Linked DNA regions of Homo sapiens: region 2 is linked to region 1. The links come from fine-mapping of genetic effects on gene expression. Tissue or cell type: skeletal muscle. Region 1 holds a variant in brackets; the other region holds the start of a gene. All regions are shown on one strand. Distances are between the middles of the regions.

Evidence for each region. PIP is the estimated chance that this variant, and not a neighbour inherited with it, causes the effect.
Region 2: it holds the start of RWDD4, and the variant in region 1 is fine-mapped to the expression of RWDD4 in skeletal muscle (GTEx, PIP above 0.99).

Annotation. Positions count from the first base shown.
Region 1 is chr4:183,613,972-183,624,618 of GRCh38, reverse strand. No RefSeq gene overlaps it. Among named protein-coding and RNA genes, the nearest start is that of RWDD4, 40 kb to the left of the region's middle. The variant C/A (reference allele first, on the strand shown) is at 5,022.
Region 2 is chr4:183,653,273-183,663,467 of GRCh38, reverse strand. RWDD4 (RWD domain containing 4) reads left to right here and starts at 4,283. Exons shown (of 8, transcript NM_152682.4): 1 at 4,283-4,539; 2 at 7,507-7,587. The coding sequence starts at 4,516. It overlaps TRAPPC11 (trafficking protein particle complex subunit 11), which reads right to left and starts at 4,175. Exons shown (of 30, transcript NM_021942.6): 1 at 4,021-4,175. It also overlaps the pseudogene RNU6-479P. RefSeq lists silencers at 3,864-4,153, 4,524-4,733, 4,548-4,768 and enhancers at 3,500-4,287, 4,244-4,373, 4,288-5,076.

The DNA of each region.
Region 1 (10,647 bases):
GTTCTTTGGTATCATATGTGAGAGCATTATCAATAAATATAATGGGGGCCGGGCGCAGTGGCTCACACCTGTAATCCCATCACTTTGGGAGGCCGAGGTGGGTGGATGCAGGTAACTAAATCCACAGAAAGTGAAATCGCCGATAAGGGGGGATTACTATATATATGTACATGTATATATAGAGAGAAATACATTAGGAGAGAGACAGAGAAGGAGAACAGTAAAGTAAATATATGGAAGACTGGGCACGGTGGAGTTGGAGACCAGCCTGGCCGACATGGTGAAACCCCATCTCTACTAAAAATACAAAAATTACATGGGCGTGGTGATGTGTACCTGTAATCCCAGTTACTCAGGAGGCTGAGGCAGGAGAATCACTGGAACCTGGGAGGTAGAGGTTGCAGTGAGCTGTGATCGCACCACTGTACTCCAGCATGGGTGACAGTGAGACTCTGTAAAAATAAATAAACTCCAAAAAATAAATGTAATGCGTTTCAATTATTTATACAAAAATTTCAGGAAAAATATAAAATAAAAAATTATTATTTTATTTTATATTTCCACATGCTAATTTTAAAATTGTTGCAATAGGCCGGGCGTGGTGGTGGTGCACATCTGTAATCCCAGCACTTTGGGAGGCTGAGGTGGGTGGATGGCTTGAGCCCAGGAGTTCGAGACCAGCCTGGCCAACATGGCGAAACTACTACTAAAAATACAAAATTTAGTGGGCGTGGTGGCAGGCGCCTGTAATCTCAGCTACCCAGGAGGCTGAGGTGGGAGGATCACTAGAGCCTGAGGAAGTCGAGGCTACAGTGAGCCCAGATCACACTACTACACTAGAGCCTGGGCAACAGAGCAAGATGCTGCCTCAGAAAAAAAAAATTGTAACAATATAATGTGGACGCGTATTTATTTTCAAGACTGTTTAACTGTTGCCTCGGTCAACTCTGTGCTGAGATCTTCTTGCAAGCATGAAGTGAGCTCCCTCCCTCTGTAATTCTCACCTTTGAATGGCCGCACAGTTCCAGTTTGTTAACAGTGCTGGCTGCGTGGGTTCCACCCTTGGCTCTCCGGCTTTCTAAGCTGATGAGCTTGTGTGCTCCCTAACTTCTCTGTGCTTCAGTTTGTCCGTCTGTAAAGTGGGGACAGGAGCATGAGTCGCCACCTGGTGGGGTTTTATGTACAGTATTTTGTATTTTCAGTAGAAACAGGGTTTCACCATGTTGGCCAGGCTGGTCTTGAACTCCTGACCTCGGGTGATCCACCCACCTCGGCCTCCCAAAGTGCTGGGATTACAGGCATGAGCCACTGTGCCCGGCCCACAGAGTGTTTTCTATAGGGTCCTCCATGGTCACTATAGTTAGCTAGAAACTACAGATACTACTTAGCCCTGAGCTTTCTGAATGTCAAGGATAAAAGGGAAACAGTTTCATACTTTAAACAGGCAAAAAGAGAAACTCTACAACCTTTGGAAAAAATTAAAGCTTTTATAGGTTTTAATTGTAAGAATTTGCTCATATGAAGTTTCACAATTGGGATGCAGAGGTTTAAGCCTCCCACAAGTATAGTAATGGATTTCATAAGATTATTTCTTCTATTCATTTCATTTTTGAAGTAATTTCAGACCACAAACAATTGCAAAAAATGTACAAAGAGGTTGCTAATACTCTTCATCTAGATTCCTCAATGTTGTATTTGTTGTATTTTCCCATATATTCACTTTTTTTTATTTTTCTGAAATGGAGTTTCACTCTCGTTGCCCAGACTGGAGTGCAGTGGCTCAATCTTGGCTCACCTGCAACCTCTGCCTCCCGGGTTCCAGCGATTCTCCTGCCTCAGCCTCCAGAGTAGCTGGGATTACAGGCACATGCCACCACATCTGGCTAATTTTTGTATATTTAGTAGAGATGGAGTTTCACCATGTTGGCCAGGCTGGTCTTGAATTCTTGACCTTAGGTGATCTGCCTGCCTCAGCCTCCCAAAGTGCTGGGATTACAGGTGTGAGCCACCGTGCCCAGCCTCCCATATATTTACTTTACTGTTCTCCTTTTCTGCCTCTCTCCCAATGTATTTCTCTCTCTATCTCTCTCTATACACGTACATATATACAGTAATCCCCCCTTATCGGCAATTTTACTTTCTGTGGATTCAGTTGCCTGCGTCAACTGGGGTTTGACAATATTTTGAGAGAGAGTGAGAGACCACATTCGCATAACTTTTATGACAGTATATTGTTATAATTGTTCTTTTTATTAACTATTGTTGCTAATCTCTTACTGTGCCATGTTTCTAAACTGACTTTTACCACAGGTGTTCCCATACAGGAAAAATATAGTATACGCATGGATTGGTTCCAGACATCCGCTGGAGATCTTGGACTGTAAGAGGGAATTACATATTTCTGAACCATCTGAGAGATAGCTGGAGACACTATGCCCCTTTACTCCTGAACACTACAGTGCATACTTCCTAAAAACAAGAATGTTATTTTCTGTAACCACAGTGCAATGACCAAAATCAGGAAGTTAACATGAATACAGTAGTATTTCCTAATATACAAGACTTTTCAGATGTTATCATTTTTCTTAAATACCTTTATGGCAAAAGAAAAAAAGAGTTTTTTGGTTTCTTTTTTCTGCTCAGTGATCTTATCTAGGCTCAAATTTGTACCTGTCATCATGTCTCTTTGGTCTTTAATCTGGAACACTTCCTAAATCTTTCTTTGTCTTGGAAGCCCTTGACATTTTGGACAGCACAGGCCAGATGCTTTTGTAGAGTGTTTCTGAGTCTGGGGTTGCCTGTTCTTCCTCATTAGATCCAGATTCAGTATTTTCGGCAGGGACATCTCAGAAGTAGTAGTGAGTCCTCAGTGTATCCCATCAGGGGGCACAAGATATCTACTTTTCCCATTACTGGTGATGTTACCTTTGAATGCTTGGTTAAGGTAGCGTCTGCCGTTTCTCCACTGTAAAGTTACTATTTTTTATCTTTATAATTAATAAATACTTATAAGGAGACACTTTGGTGTCATAAAAATCTCTTGTCTCCTATCCAACCTGCTAGTTTCTTTGCTGACTCTTCCATAAAACAATTATGTCTACAACAATAGACAAGTGGTGATGTTCGATGTTCGAATTCCATTATTCCCTCTGCATTCATTTGTTGGCATTCCATGGTACTTCCCATTCTCCTCCACATATTAATTGACATCAGTACAGACTATTTCTTTTTTTTTTTTTTTTTTTTTTTGAGACAGTCTCGCTCTTGTTGCCCAAGCTGGAGTGCAATGGCGCGATCTCAGCTCACTGCAACCTCTGCCTCCTGGGTTCAAGTGATTCTCCTGCCTCAGCCTCCCAAGAAGCTAGGATTACAGGCATGTGCCACCACGCCTGGCTAATTTTTTGTATTTTTAGTAGAAACAGTGTTTCACTATGTTAGTCAGGCTGGTCTCGAACTCCTGACCTCAAGTGATCCACCCACCTCAGCCTCCCAAAGTGCTGGGATTACAGACGTGAGCCACCTCGCCCGGCCAGTGCAGACTATTTTCATGCTGGGTTAATTCTGTAATCCATTTATCATTACTTATTTTGCTGCTCAATTTCTCTCAGATTTGTCCAGTAAATGCCACATCAGGCTAGCACATCTGTCCTTTGACAGGTCCCCATGATGCTTAATTCTTTACTTTCTGCACAGCAATACTCACAAGGTTGTTTCTTAATGAGTTATTGGACAAAATCCTAAAATGTGGCTCCATGAAAACAGTTTTCTGGAGTGCCAAGACTCTGTGATCCAGAAACACTGCTATGGGCTTGCTTGATTCCAAGCTAAAACTCAAATAAATTATAGAGATGGGCATCCTTCCACCAATCCTCCGTAAATATTGCTTCTCCTAAGCAGGCTTTTTCTTTTCTTTTTTCTGCCCATTTCTGGTGTAAACAGGCTTTTTATGAAACCTGGACACCAGACAATTCAAGACTTTGTTTCCTGCCAAAGGTCAGCAACACTGTCCAATGTAACTTTTTGCAATGATGGAAGTGTCCTTTAGCTGTGTTCCCTGATAAAGTAGCCACTAGCCACATGTGGCTATTGACCACTTGAAATGTGGCTAGGGTGACGGAAGAACTAACTGTTCATTTAAACTAGTAAATTGTAATTTTCATTTACATAACCACATGTGGCTAGTGGCTGCCTTATTGGATACACAGGTCTAGAGGGAAGGTTTGCTATGGTGTTGATAGAGGATGGATTGAAATATAATAAAGATGAAATAATGAAATGTAGCCCTAAATGATTAAACAGTTAGAGAGTTCTGTGGCATTATTGAACATACACCACTTAAGTAGTTTGTATTTATTGCATTATTTAAACAGTAAATTGTAAAAGTACCACACTCCATTGAGGCCACTCGTAATTTGTGACAACATCATCACAGCGTTAGCTGATGGGATATTTGTCCCTGTTGTGTTTTTTTTTTTTTTTTTTTTTTTTGAGACGGAGTCTCACTCTGTTGCCCAGGCTGGAGTATAGTGGCGCCATCTCGGCTCACTGCAACCTCCGCCTCCCAGGTTCAAGCAAATTCTCCTGCCTCAGCCTCCCAAGTAGCTGGGACTACAGGCACGTGCCACCATGCCCAGCTAATTTTTGTATTTTATAGTAGAGACGGCGTTTCACCGTGTTGGCCAGGCCGGTCTTGAACTCCTGACTTCAGGTGATCCGCCCGCCTCCGCCTCCAAAAGCGCTGGGATTACAGGCGTGAGCCACCGCGCCTGGCCGTCCCTGTGTTTTTTCTTGCACGCAGATCATCTAAAAATTATTTCAAATCAGTAACATCTTTGGGCAATGATGAGGGAGGGGGACGGAAAAAACAAGCCCTATTTTATGTTCCCTCAACAATCTAAATGTTACTTAAGCTATGCTTTGTTTATGGTTGTCTGTATACTTTGTGGAAAGACAAACAGGACAGTCTGACCCTGAAGATATGGGTTGCCTGGCAACAATCTAAATGGGACCAGAACCTCCCC[C/A]CTCCCCCTGCAGGAGGGGCTGTGCCCAAATGGAACTTCTCACAAGGTCAACAGGTGCTGGCAACAGGCTCTCCAGACAGCGAACTGCCTGAACAGCTGTCACCTAAGCCCAGCCTGCCCGATGCCCAAGCAGACATTTTGTTCCCCCTGGCAAGGCCACTCGGGTTTGCCCTTTAAAAAGAGAACCCAAATGAGTGGGGGCGGGGCCTTGAGGCCTTTCCTTGCAGTCCGGGGCTGTCTTAGTCCAACTAGCCGGACCCAAGCGTCCCTCCGCAGAGGTCTGAGGGGTGGAGACTGATCTTGCGGCATCTCTGCGTGTGAGTGCCAGCCTGCACCAAAAGACGCACTGTTGTCTGCCCAAACCCTTTCAGTGACGCGTTTTGTAAAAATCATCTATGTTTTCCCCCAAATAGCTGTCATCAGTGAAAAGCATCAAAGAAAATCCAATATATGACCACAGAAGAGATAATGCAAAAACTAAAACTGTTCCAAAATAATGCAATAAATATGTTTTCTAACACATGCAAATCAATTTTCTAATAAGATTTGTATGTATGTGTTAGCAAACCTTTATTAGGAACTAAGAGTTAATTCAATGTTAGTTAAACAGTGTGTAGGAAATACTAAGTCAAACTTCTGGAAGTGATTGCGAAAGAAAATCAATGTTTCTTTGAAAACAGATAGTTACAGAGACAGTGATGGTTCATTATGTCTCAACTTGGCTTGGCTGTGGGGCCCAGCTGCTTGGTTAAACACTAACTTGGATGTTGCTGTGAAGGTATTGTGTAGATGTGATTGATACGTACAATCAGCTGACTCTGAGTAAAGTAGATTATCCTCTTGAATGTGGGTGAGCTTCATGCAATCAGCTGAAGGCTTTCAGAGCGGAGACTGAGCCTTTCCCGAGAAAAAAGGAATTCTGCCTCGAGCCTGCAGCACAGAAACTCTGAGTGAGTTTCCGGAGGGCTTGGCCTGCTTTGCAGATTTCGGACTCGAGACGGTAACATCAACTCCTGCCTGAATTTCCAACCTGTGGGCCTGTCCTAGAGATTTCAGACTTGCCGGCCTCCTCAATTACTTGAGCAATTCTTTAAAATCTCTCTCGCTGTCTCTTTGTATGTGTATGTATACATACACACATACATATATATCTCTTATTGGTTCTGTTTCTCCAGAGAACCCTGACTGATACGATTATTTATTCTATTAAGCATTTTACAGAAGTTATTTGAGCAAGAAATGTTTAACAGCTGAGTTTTTCTTTTTCTTTTTTTTCTTTTTTTTTTTTTGAGATGGAGCCTCGCTGTGTCACCAGGCTGGTGTGCAGTGGTGCGATCTCGGCTCACCGGAACCTCCGCCTCCCGGGTTCAAGTGATTCTCCTGCCTCAGCCTCCCGAGTAGGTGGGACTACAGGCGCCCGCCACCACGCCGGGCTAATTTTTTGTATTTTTTAGTAGAGACGGGGTTTCACCGTGTTAGTCAGGATGGTCTGGATCTCCTGATCTTGTGATCTAACCACCTCTGCCTCCCAAAGTGCTGGGATTACAGGCGTGAGCCACTGTGCCCGGCCTCTATATTTACTCTTACTGTAAATGTCATGAGTCAAAGAAATTCCTCAACTGCACTTGGTCACTTGTTTCAATGTCAAAATATATTTAATGTAATTTTGTCTGAAAGTCTAATTTGACTTTATTTTACTGTCATCTGAACATATTCTCTCTTATTTTCCACTCAATGTGAAGATTAAAGTCTCAATCTCTGTGGACTATACAGTAAAGGAATTAAGCCATATGTAATACTACCTTTTCCAGCCAACAGTAATTATCTTAATCAAATTTAGGATAATATGATATTTGGATGATTTCACATTTAGTTCTAAGTAGTAGTATTTAAGAAAAAAACAGGCTGGGCCCAGTGGCTCATGCCTGTAATCCCAGCACTTTGGGAGGCCAAGGTGAGTGGATCATTTGAGCTCAGGAGTTCGAGACCAACCTAGGCAACATGGTGAAACCCCGTCTCTACAAAAGACACAAAAATTATCCCGGTGTGGTAGTGCAGCCCTGTGGTCCCAGCTGCTCAGGAGGCTGAGGCAGGAGGATAGCTTGAGCCTAGGGTGGTCAAGGCTGCTTTGAGCCAAGATCAGGCCACTCTGTACTCCAGCCTGGGTGACAGAGCCAGACTGACCTTGAAAAAAAAGAAAGAGGAAGGAAAGAAAGAAAGAAGAAAGGAAGGAAGGAAGGGGAGGGAAGGGGAGGGAAGGAAGGGAAGGAAGGAAGGAGACAGAAAGAGAGAGAGGAAGGAAGGAAGGAAAAGAAAGAAAAAGAGAAGAAGGAAGGAACAAAAAGAAAGAGAAAGAAAAGAAAGGAAGGAAAGGAGGGAGGGAGGAAGGGAGGGAAAAGAAAGAGGAAGGAGGGAGGGGAAAAAAAGAAAGAAAAATAAAAGAAAAAAAGTAGGGCTTAGTGGCAGTCCCTGTATTGTTTTCACCTGGCAGGCCGCGTAGTGTGAGGAGAGTGGAGGGGTCTGGCCAGGAGGGGAGACTGAACACACACAAGAGGGATTAGTCCAATAGTGAAACATATTGAAAGTGGTGGGAGTCAGGCTTTTCATTGTTGGAAATGAGCTGCAGGGTGAATGATAAGACAACTAATCTGAACCTTATGGTGTTGGATTGGAATTAAAGGCATTGGTGCAAACTCATGGTTTTGAATATATAGATAAGGGTCGGGTGCAGTGGCTCACACCTGCCTTTAATCCCAACATTTTGGGAGGCCAAGGTCGGAGGATCACTTAAGGCCAGGAGTTTGAGACCAGCCTGGGCAACACAGTGAGGTCCCTTCTTTACAAAAAAATTAAGAATTAGCCAGGTGTGGTGGTGCACACCTGTAGTTCCAGCTACTTGGGAGGCTAAGGTGGGAGGATCGCTTGAGCCCAGGAGGTTGAGGCTGCAGTAAGCCAAGATCGTGCCACTGCATTCCAGCCTGGGTGACAGAATGACACCATGTCTCAAAAAAATTATATAGATAAATAAAGATATAATATATTATACAAATATGTGTCTATATTATGTATAATATGTAGATTTAAATGCAGATGAGTGTGTATAATCCTGGATTATGGGGGGGAGGTCCCCAATGTGGTCACAAGGGCGCTTACACAAAGCAGCCATGAGGAGCAGAATCAGAGAGAGGATAAACGGATGAAAGCAGAGGTCAGAGAGGAGGGAAGGTGCTATGCTGATGGCTTGAAGATAGAGGAGGGGGCCATAGCCCAGGAATGCAGGCGTCCTCCAGAAGCTAGAAGGCAAGGGAACGGCTTCTTCCCTGGTGCCTTTAAGAGGAACACAGGCCTGCCAGTGCCTTGATTTTAACCTAGTGACACCGATGGGGAACGTCTGGCCTCCAGAGTTACAAAATAATACATTTAAGTTGTTTTAACCCGCTAAGGTTATGGTAGTTTGTTATAGCAGCACTAATACAGTATGACACACAATAGGACACTAATGCAAGTGGCAACAAGTAAATGGAGAAAAAAATGATGCAGTTAGAAAAATCACTGTTTGGTCATTAATAAGGCAATAATTAAATCATCCAAAAATATCAATGGAAGCTAAAATCAGTGAGTCAATGTTTGATAAGAAATGGAATATTGAGGCTGGGCACGGTGGTTCACGCCTGTCATCCTAGCACTTTGGGAGGCCGAGGTGGGCGGTTCACCTGAGGTCAGGAGTTCCAGACCAGCCTGGCCAACATGACGAAACCCAGTCTCTACTAAAAATACAAAAATTAGCCGGGCGTGGTGGCGGGCACCTGTAATCCCAGCTACTCGGGAGGCTGAGGAAGGAAGATTGCTTGAACCTGGAAGGTGGAGGTTGCAGTGAACTGAGATCACGCCACTGTACTCCAGCCTGGGCAAGTGAGTAAGACTATCAGAAAGAAAGAGAGAGAGAGAGAAAGAGAGAGAGAGAGAGAGAAAGAGAGAGAGAGGGGGAGGGAGGGAAAGGAAAGAAAAGAAAGAAGAAACAAAGAAAGAAATGGGATATTTAAATAGTCCCACGTTTCCTTACTGATTCCAAAACATTAGTCATGCACAGTGGAGAAATCTGACAAATACCACCTTAATCAAGTTGATCTCAGCAGAAACGGACAAATCAGAATCATTTGCCACCTGATAGAAGGCAGCGAGAAGACAGCCTCTAGATTGAAAGTGAGTAGAGACATGACCAGTGAAAGCAGCGGGAGACCCTGTCCTGGATCCTTTGACTATAAAGGATACGACTGGTGCAATTGGAGAAACTGGGGTGGAATCTGTAGAGTAGGTGGTAGGAAGATTTCATTGTTAATTTCCTGATTTTGCTGGTGGTATGTTTGCTTGTGTAGGAGAATCTCCTTGTTTGTAGGAATTACAAACTAAAGAATTCAGAATGATGGGGCTTTGTGTCAGCATTACTCTCACATGGTTCAGGGAAAAAAAGTCCTACTATTCTTGAAAATTTCAGTATGTTCGTAATTGTTTGAAAATCAACAACAACAAAAGAGGTATAGGCTCCAGGGAAGATTTTGTCTCCTTGCCTTTCCTGGCTTTTGCATTTCTTTACTCAAGGCCCCTTCCTCAATCTTCAAAGCATCTTCGCCTCTCTCTGACCTCTGTGCCCATCCTTACATCTTCTCTCTGACCCTAACTCCACTGCCTCCTTCTTGTAAGTACACTTGTGATTACTTTGGGTTCATTAGGATTATCCCGGGTGCACATTGCTTATTTTTTTAAACAATATATCTTAAGGGTCTTTCCCTGTCAGATCTTTTAAACATAGTTTTCCTTACTATAAATAAACTGTAATTTATCCATTTCTCTATAAATTGTTTCTAATTATTAGCCATTGCAAACCATGTTATGTGGTATATTCCTGCACTTGTATTCTTCTGCATGTGTCAATATTTCTGTTAAGTCAAAGAACAATTGCTGTACGAAGACATGGGACATTTTGTTAGATGGTGACAAATTGTCATCCCAGAAGACTGTACTTTTAGACTCACTCTGGGTGCACTGCCGAGGAGTTAGCTCTGGAGCAACTAAGGAAAAAAAAAAAAACAGAAACAACTATACCTTTAGATTCCTACCAACAGGCAGAGACCATTCACCCATACATTTACTGAAACAGGATAGTATCAGCTTTCAAATGAGTAAAATATGGTATGTTGTCATCATTCTTTTTGCACTAATCTACTAGACTACTAGAGAATTTGAGCATCTTTTTATGTGCATAAGGGCCATGTGTGTTTCTCTGACTATTAGTATCCTTTACACACATCTCTACTTGATGTTTATGTTTTCCTATTTTTATATGCAACGTGGCAGCGAGACATGACAATCGGCAGTCAGCCTTTTAACTAAGGTCTGTGTTCATTTCTGTTGACCCTGAGCTTGGAGTTTCTCTGGGGCTCTGTTTGGGAGAATGGCACGCCTCTGACAATGCCTGTGTTTAGTGGTGGAACTCTCTGCCTTAGTTTCTTCATAAATTGAGGCCATTTGTTTTCAATATTCCAGAAATCTGTACCACCACCCCCACCAAATTCTGCTTTAATGGTGACAGCCTTTCTTCTTTCCCAGCTCTGTGATGGAGAATGGA
Region 2 (10,195 bases), 39 kb before region 1:
AGGTCAGGAGATCGAGACCATCCTGGCTAACACGGTGAAACCCTGTCTCTACTAAATATCCAAAAAATTAGCCGGGCGTGGTGGTGGGCGCCTGTAGTCCCAGCTACTCAGGAGGCTGAGGCAGGAGAATGGCGTGAACCCGGGAGGTGGAGGTTGCAGTGAGCCAAGATGGCGCCACTGCACTCTAGCCTGGATGACAGAGGGAGACTCTGTCTCAAAAACAAAAAACAAAAAATTAGCTGGACATGGTGGCACACACCTGTAACCCCAACTACTTGGAGGCTGAGGCAGGAGAATCACTTGAACCCAGGAGGCGGAGGCTCCAGTGAGCCAAGATCACGGCACTCCACTCCAATCTGGGTGACAGAGTGAGACTCTGTCTCAAAAAAAATAAAATAAATAAAATAATCATTACAAAAAGGCAAAAGGCTTTGAGTATCTGCAAACTGTCAAACAAACAGAAGAGAGAAAAAGGGAAAACTTTAATTCCTGAATTAGATCTATTAAAATGTAATAACTATATGACATTTAAGAAAAAATCTTTCATGTTAAAAATGAAGTCAACTTTAAGACAAATCGGCATTTTCAGTAATGTCTCAAAATGCACACAGAACTTTGAAATTAGTAGACCAAGAAAGCAAGAAGGTGATAAAATTAAAATAGATCTACATGATCTATTTCAACTATAAAAGAAAAATATATTGAAAGAAAAATATAAAAGAAAAACAGTTGACTTACATATAATAAACTTCCCCTAATTTCTCTGTAATTGCTAATATTGAATTTCTGAATACCTAGGATATTATTAAAATAGCCTTTAATTTATGTAATTATCTAAATAGTAGCTATGTTGTCTCATTTCCCACAATATAAAATTTACTCTTTAAAGAAAAATCTGTAAGGGAAAAACTAACAATGAATGGAAACCTCTCGGAGGATGTTTCCACTGCGTCCTTTAGCTAAGAATCAGTCCATAATAAATCTAACGTATGCCCTGACTTTATAAGTATATAAAACTATGTTTATCCCGAACAAGACTGTCATTATATTTTTAATATAATCTTACTTGCAAAAGGATGTAACAACATGAGGTTCTTTTTTTTTTTTTTTTTTGAGACGGAGTATCACTCTGTCACCAGGCTGGAGTGCACTGGCCCAATATCAGCTCACTACAACCTCCACCTCCCGGGTTCAAGTGATTCCCCTGCCTCAGCCTCCCTAGTAGCTGGGACTACAGGCATGCACCACCACACCCAGCTAATTTTTTGTATTTTAGTGGACAGGGTTTCACCATGTTGGCCAGGATGGTCTTGATCTCGTGACCTCAGGCGATTGCCAGCCTTGGCCTCCCAAATGAGGTTCTTTTAAAAGATAATCTATACCAGCATATTACAGAGAATTCAGGTAAGGCACAAGTGGCTCATGCCTATAATCCCAGCACTTTTGGAGGACAAGGCCAGAGGATTGTTGAGGCCAGGAGTTCAAGACTGGCCTGGGAAACATAGTGAGATCCTGTCTCTAAAAGAAATAAAAAAGAAAATAGCCGGGCATGGTGGTGCTCACTTGTAGTCCCAGCCACTTGGGAGGCTGAGATGGGAGGATCACTTGAGTCTAGGTGTTTAAAGTTACAGTGAACTATGATTGTGCCACTGCACTCCAGCCTGGGTGACAGAGCAAGATTGTGCCACAAAAAAAAAAAAAAAAAAAAAAGTTATTCCAAACAAAATTATCACTACATTTTAAATATAATCTTATTTGAAAAAGAATGTGTCATGAGGCTCTTTTAAAAGGTAATCTGGCCGGGCGCGGTGGCTCACGCCTGTAATCCCAGCACTTTGGGAGGCCGAGGCGGGCGGATCACAAGGTCAGGAGATCGAGACCATCCTGGCTAACATGGTGAAACCCCGTCTCTACTAAAAACACAAAAAATTAGCCGAGTATGGTGGTGGGCGCCTGTAGTCCCAGCTACTCGGGAGGCTGAGGCAGGAGAATGGCGTGAACCCGGGAGGCGGAGCTTGCAGTGAGCGGAGATCGCGCCACTGCACTCCAGCCTGGGCGACAGAGCGAGGAGACTCCGTCTCAAAAAAAAAAAAAAAAAAAAAAAAAGGTAATCTACACCAGTATACCAGTATATTATGGAGAAGTCTAACACAATCTTTGTGAAAAGTGAGGCACACTTAGGCTAATACCTAATCCCCAAAACATGGAATATTTTCAACTGAAAGGTTAATTTAGGAAAGACTATTAGTCTTCTCATGTTTACATACTGAAAGAACAACAGGTATTCAATAAATGATTTGCAAAGCTTGCCAGAAATGTCTACAACAGATTGTTTTAGAATTGTTTAAATATTTTTAGGACAGGATTAAGTTATGAGGGCAAAGGATTGCATGTTCAGAGAAAGAAACAGTCTAGTTCTGGGTAATGTAGGAATGAAAATTAAAAAGGGGTGACCAGGCTGGGTACAGCGGCTCACGCCTGTAATCCCAGCACTTTGGGAGGCCAAGGCGGGCGATTCACGAGGTCAACGGTTCAAAACCAGCCTGGCCAATAGGGTGAAACCCCGTCTCTACTAAAAATACAAAAATTAGCCGGGCATGGTGATGCGTGCCTATAGTCCCAGCTACTCGGGAGGCTGAGGCAGGAGAATGGCTTGAACCCGGGAGGCGGAGATTTCAGTGAGCCGAGATCGCACCACTGCACTCCAGCCTGGGCAACAGAGCAAGACTCCGTCTCAACAACAACAACAAAAAACAAGTGACCAAAATACAATACGGGCCCCTTTGCTTAATATGAACGAGTCTAGACTAGAGGCCATTTCCTGTAATAACTCCAGAGGCCCAAAAGACATAGCTGTGGTCTTTAAATATGGAGTTGAAATAAGAGGAACTAAAAATGACTGTCATCCAATAGAAATACAAGTCACATAAATAAATTAAAAATTTCTAGCAGTCATATTAAAAAGTAAAACGTGGATGGAATTCATTTTAATATTCAATTTAACGCAGTACAGTATGTCCAAAATATTATCATACTGACAATAATATAAAAGTTATTAATGACATATTTTACCTTTTTTTGTACTGAGTCTTCAAAATCTGGTGTGTATTTCACACTCACAGCACATCTCAATTCAGACTAGCCTATTTCAAATGCCTGATGTAGCTACTGGCTACAGAACTGGACAGCAGAGATCTAAATTATGGGAAATGTGTCCCAAAATTGCTGCACGAAAATTGTATCAGAAAGTCTTGCCACATTCTCCTATGTCACCTGAAATGGTCGTGCTTATTCTGCAGCAAAGGAATTTGAATGAGAACCCCGATAACGCACAGGCGCAGATCGAATGGATTTCAATGACAGGCTGGAAGGAGAAATTTTCAGATATCCAATGGAGCAACCAACGAAACTATACACGAAAGGAGGCGCAGCTATAGAAGGTGAATAATGGATGGGAGATCAAGTAATGCAAGGGAAGTAAACTGGAAACTAGCGTGAAAGATAAGAAAGGTGACCCAATCAAATTGGCAACTAAAAAAACCCCAAAACCTAATGTGGTTACTTTTTTTTTCTTTTAACTAACTGGAAGTTCAGGGTGTTAGGACACAAGGCTGCTAAGAATGGGATTCAGAGATGTTCAACTACAAAACGAACAAAAGAGGAACGACAGTGTGGGGACGAAATGATGTTTCGATGTTAAAGATGAGAAGCAACAATCCAACGTAGGAGAAACACCGTCCCCATGGTCCCAGTATCTGTTCTGGTAGCTCCAGTGAGGAAAGGTAGAGAAATAACCTTGCAGTCCCTAAAGGCAGATATCTTCCTCCTCTTATTCCCCCGTCTTAAACCTGGGAGGCCCTAGAAACGGGTGCGTCTTTCCTCGGGTCTAAAAGAGAAGTGCCAGGATTGCACCCGTCGATGGGATTGCAAAACGCAGGCCCCCAAACCAGCATTGTTAAGAGCTAGCTCTCTTCCTCGGCGGTCCCGCCTGGCCCCGCGGGTCTCCGGGCCCGGACTCACCCAGGCCCCACGCCCCGGGCCCGCTGCAGCTGAGGCCGGTCGCCGCCAGCCGGGAGAAGACGAGGGGAGGCGGGGGGATGTCACAGAACGCCGTGGCCCGTCCCCACCGCCGCAGCCCCACAGCCAGTTCCAACAGGCGAGACTTCCCTGTACCCACCTCCCCCGGCACAGGAAGCACTTTCTGGGCCTGAGTGACCGCGCTCTACACCAATCGCTGTCCCGGAACTTTACGCCGCTCCTCCAAGCGTCAGGGAGACGCTGCACTTCCCAGGCCCCACCAGCCGCGGCTCCGGCTCGTAGCCCACAGCCCACTGCCGGCGGCTGGGCGCTGCCGAGGCTCGGGGCGCGCGCAGTTGGCGTCTGCCAGTGCCAAGACTGTGCCGCCCCCACAGCCGAGGCGCGAAAGGGGGACGCCCGGCCTCTGGGCCGCTGCCTTCGCTTTCTCTTCGTTGTTGCGAACGCCGTCCGCTCAGGAGGCGCCCCGCGACCGGCGCGATGAGTGCCAACGAGGACCAGGAGGTGAGCCCCCCGGCTCAGGGCCCTCTCCCAGCGCGGGCGCGGCGCGCAGCCCCGGGCCCCCGTGAGACCTGGTGCCCGGACAGCCTGCCCGGCACGTGCCCTGTGCCCTCGGAGCCGGCCGGGGTGCCCCGAGTTCACCGGCGTCCCACCCAAGCGCGCGTGAATGGCCAGGAGTCCGCCTCTGCCACTCTTCCCCCCTCATTTTTCATTTTTGCAAATCCGGGAGTCTCCCCTGGTTACTTAATAACAGGGATGAGCGTCCTTGGTGCACGATCCAGTGCTCTTGGCTCTCCTTGAATCCCATGTGTTCAGTGCCTGTTTACTGAGTTAGGCTGATCACCTTTAAATTTTAGTCTGGTCATCTTTAAATCTCTTGGCTAGTAGAGGGCTAATTGAGTTAGTTACATTTCTCATGGAAGAAAATGACACTGGTGGTGCATCTGAGTTTCTGTCCATATTGTTTGGGGAAATCTTTTACCCATCTGTCTGTTTTGAGCATTCATGTACCACCTGAATTTATGGTTTATGCTCAAATATTTCCTTGTGAGATGCCATTTTGACATTGAATCATATAATATTAGAGTTGGGGGGTGGGTGCTACGGGCCATCTGTAGGGGAACCTTCTAACTTTGATAGGTGGGTCGATGATAGCCGCAGGGCTGCACAGTAAGTACGTGGTAGAATCGGGACTAGAAACCAGGTCTTATTGGGTGGTAGATAAGTTCACTGTTAATTTAAAGTATAATGCTTGAAACTTACTACTTTTACATGATAAATGTAATAGAATCTCTGGATTGGAAGTTAACCTTTAAAGGACCCAAAGTCCAACAAGCTAGCTAGTTGATATCTGAATCTCTTCTAAAATATTCTTGCCGGGTGAATTTCTAAGTGAATGCGTTAATAGCTTCTTCTCCCTGCAAAGCAAAGAACATACAGTGTAATGTTTCTCAGAGTTGGACCATAGTCCCCTACCTTAGAACCATTTAGATGGTTGCTAGAAAACAGATGCGTGCACTCCACCCCAGACCTACTGAATCAGAATTTCTGTGGTGGGCCCAGGAATCTCCAGTTTAACAAGAAAATTTCATTCTTCTTTCAGATGACCGATGTTCTGATCTTTGAAGATAGTTTCCTGCCCAGTTTCTCAGACCTTCTCTGAGGAAGTGGTTCCTTTTAGCTTGTCTTCATATATCCATTCTTTGTTAATCTCTTCACTATCCTGGAATCACGTGTTTGTGGACAGATTTTAATTTTTTAAATGTCCTGTTTCAAAATTGTGGCATCTTGCTGTTTTGTCTAGTTAAATTTACTGTCAACTGAAATCTTTTAAGTGCTTTATACAAAGCAATTTGTCTTTCATCTTCAACTTCTACATTTAGGTATCTGAGTATTGATACAAGTTCTACTTACCCTGCTAAATTTCATCATTAGCTTGCTTTTCAAAGACTTTTTGGATTCTTATTCAGCCATCAGCATTATTCACTGTCCCAACAAATTGTCATCCACAAATTTAATAAACTTGCCTCCTATTTTTGTACCTGTCCAAGTCATAAATTAAAATATGGGAAAGGATTAGGGACAGAAGGAGTAGTACTATATCTTGAGTAAGGTTTTTGTTCCAATCTAATCTTAGTTATTCTTGAATCCGGCTTGAATTTCTGTATTTTGTTTTTTTTTGTTTTTTCTGTAAAGGTAGCAAGAGAAACCTGTGGAGCCTGGCTGAAATCTATATAGTCGGTGTTTTATGCCTTTCTTCATTGTGCCAATCAAGTTTCCCTATCTAAGAAGGGTATATCTTGTTTTTCATATACTTACTAGGTCTTAGGGTCTACTCCTTAATGTCCCAGTTCCTCACACACTGTTTCTTCAACAATGTCTTTTTGCTGTTGTTGTTGCTATTTTTGAGACGGAGCCTCGCTCTGTAGCCCAGGCTGGATTGCAGTGGCCCGATCTCGGCTCACTGCAACCTCCGCCTCCTGGGTTCAAGCGATTCTCTTGCCTCAGCCTCCTGAGTAGCTGGGACTACAGGCGCCCATCACCACACCTGGCTAATTTTTGTGTCTTTAGTAGAGATGGGGTTTCACCGTGTTGGCCAGGCTGACCTCGAACTCCTGACCTCAGGTGATCCGCCCGCCTCGGCCTCCCAAAGTGCTGGGATTACAGATGTGAGCCACCGCGCCCAGCCAATAATTTCTATTCTAAAATTTTGACTGTAGATCAAGCCCACTTTCACCATCTTTAGTTTGTAGAATTCATGACATGCATCTTTTTGAAAAACTTAAACGTGTACCCAAGTGCAGTCTTGCTTTACTTCTTTTCTCAGGTATTCATCGGTGATCACAGTGATGAACTTCTCAGTTGTAATACCAAAATGTTCTAAGAACTATGTCCAAGCAAGGATTACTAGTTACATTTTCTCTGACAGTCCTGTCTCATCTTGGGTAGATACTTGTCAGCCTTTTTCTTAAGTTCTTTTTCTTGCCCTTAGGTGTTTTTTAGAGCTTTGTATCACTGTGGGAAGGATTACATATAAAAGAAATGTATGTAAATAATGGGAAAGTATTGTTTTTCATAGTTCTTATCTTTAGGTTTAATGCTCTTTGCACCCAGGTTCGTCTTTAGCCAAGTTCTAAGAGCGCTTGCTCTGGAGTGGCTTTACAGGGAGACTTCCTTGCTTCCCTAGGAAGGAGAAAATAATAGGAGCCTCTTGACAGGGTTGATTTGAGAAGTCAGCGCGATCATACATTGTACAGTGCTTAGTAGTCCCTGACACAGAGTTTGAAAGTAAGTATCATTGGTAGTAATATTGTCATGTGTTGCTGCATGCACCTATGTGGTAAGTATCTAAGGTTATATAAGTTAGTCAAGCTTTTACATAGTTGAGTGGGCTTGAATGAGAAAGTAAAGACCCTCTATTTCTAATTCATTTATACCACTAAACAAAACTCATTCAGTTCTTTATTTCAGATGGAACTAGAAGCATTACGCTCTATTTATGAAGGAGATGAAAGTTTCCGGGAATTAAGTCCAGTTTCTTTTCAATATAGGGTAAGACATGGCATGAATAAGAGCACTTAGAACTTTTCTAGAAAAGACTGAAAGTGGCTAAAAATGCTTATTTTGTTTTTTAAACTTGTTTAAATTTATTATGTCTGTATTTTCTGTAGCATTTAAATGGAAACATCACCCTAACATCAGTCATTTTTAACGTTTGAAAACTTAATTCAGAAGCTTAAAAAACCAAGATAAACTTGTTTTTATTGTACCAGAATCATAAGATACTAGAAATGGAAAAAACCTTAAAAATTATTTAATCTTATCTTTAACATAAAATAGTAACAGTAGGGCTGGGCGCGGTGGCTCTCACCTGTAATCCCAGCACTTTGGGAGGCCAAGGTGGGCGGATCACGAGGTCAGGAGATCGAGACCATCCTGGCCAACATGGTGAAACCCCACTGTCTCTACTAAAAATACAAAAAATTAGCCGGGCATGGTGGCGGGCGCCTGTAGTCCCAGCTACTCGGGAGGCTGAGGCAGGAGAATGGCGTGAACCCGGGAGGCAGAGCTTGCAGTGAGCCGAGATCAAGCCACTGCGACAGAGCGAGACTCTGTCTCAAAAAAAAAATAGTAACAGTATTTTATTTTGTAAATAAGTCATATAAACCTTTTATTCAAATGATTATAAGTAGGCGGGGCACAGTGGCTCACACCTTTAATCCCAGAACTTTGAGAGGCCGAGGCAGGCGGATCACCTCAAGTCTGGAGTTCTAGACCAGCCTGGCCAACAAGGTGAAACCCTGTCTCTACTAAAAATACAAAAATTAGCCACGCATGATGGTGCATGCCTGTAGTCCCAGCTACTTGGGAGGCTGAGGCAGGAGAATCACTTGAACCCAGGAGGCGGAGGTTCCAGTGAGCAGAGATTGTGCCACTGCACTCCAGTCTGGGCGACAGAGCGGGACTCAAAAAAAAAAACAAAAAAAACACACAAATAATTATAAGTAGCGGAATGGGGAAGTTTTTTTTGTAAAAGATTTACAGTTATTATTAACATTGTCACAGTTTAAACTATTAGAAATGATTCTTATGCATGATCGATGGATGACCATCACAGAAAATAAGTTTCTGTTCTCAATTCCCTTTCAAGCTTAACAGTCCTTACACCATCTCCAAGTATGTAATAACCATGGACCTCAAATGTCCAAAGTTAACAGTGGAGCTAAGTCCTAGGCCCTTCGGTTTGAATCCAGTTGCTACTCTCTCCTTAGCAAATGGGAGGTCGAGAATTTCCCTATACTCTCCTAAATATCTCATTCACAATGGCAGTGATTTAGAGCATGTTGTGCAGAATGCCCTAGGACATTTATATGTACTATAAGATGGACACTGACGTGACCCATAGGATGGATTTAAGAAGAATGATACATGAGATTAGGAGACAGTGTGTTGATAGTCAAAGGGCCAGGGGTAAAGTTCTTCCTGTGGCCTGAGTCACACCCCTCAGTTCTTGCACGGAATAGTCTGGTAGCCTCCTAGTTGACTTCCCCGGTTTAATACTTTCTTTAGCTTCCCCCTTATACTCCACCATGAGTCCTCCAACAGTACTAGTTGGCACTCTGAAGCATTTAAGTTGTCATCCCATTCTCTTCTTTAAAAATGTTTTTCTCTGGGTTCCTCTTGCCTATAAAATGAGGACGAAATTTTTTCACTTGACACTCCAAATCCTTCTGTTTGTTTCTGTCTCCAAACTTTCCCCTCCACTCACATGCCTTAGACATAATGGGTTGTGACATTTCCCCCCGTGTATTTTTTTCTAGTACTATGCTTTTGCACACATTGTTTGATCTTTCTCTCACCTCAGGTCCATTATTCCCCTGCCTCTCCTTTAAGGCCTAACTCAGGCCTTCTCTGTGATACATTAATATTTGGGCCATGTCTCCTGTCTCTGCTCTGACTTTGAATCAGAATTAGCCGTTCCCCATTTCTTCATACTTTGTTTTGTTACTTTTGAACTATTATTCATATTGCAGTTTTGTAAGTTATATAAATATCTGTCTGAAGACAGGAATAGCCTTGTCTCTATCTTTGTATCTTCGGTACCCAGCACAGTGTGAGGCATGTGATAATTTATTCCTAAATGCGCCATGAGTAAGGACGTAGTGATTGCATCAAGCAGGTAACTTTTATCACTTTTTATCATCTATATTTAAACATAAACCAATGACATCTATTATGCAGATAATCCTTATCCAGGTCTATCAGTAGATCCCTACATTTATTTTAATAACAATACAGAGGAGATTAGCATAGCCCTGTGTAAGGATGAGATGTTGATTCATGTATCATTCCACCGTTTTACTAGAAGATCACCATTTTGCAACCACCAGTATGATAATTGATTCAGTTACAGTTAAGGACTGTTAATGAAGGCTAAAACCTTTGGGTGAAAGGTTGTTGAGAAACAAGGTATTCATACAGTTTTGTAGTGTTGCCCCACAGACGATGATGATTTTTTTTTTTTTAATAGAGACAGGGTCTTGCTGTGTTGCCCAGGCTGGTCTCTAACTCCTGGCCTCAAGTCATCCTCCCACCTCACCTTCTCAAAGAGCTGGGATTACAGACATGAGCCACCTCACCCAGCGAGATTATTCCTTAA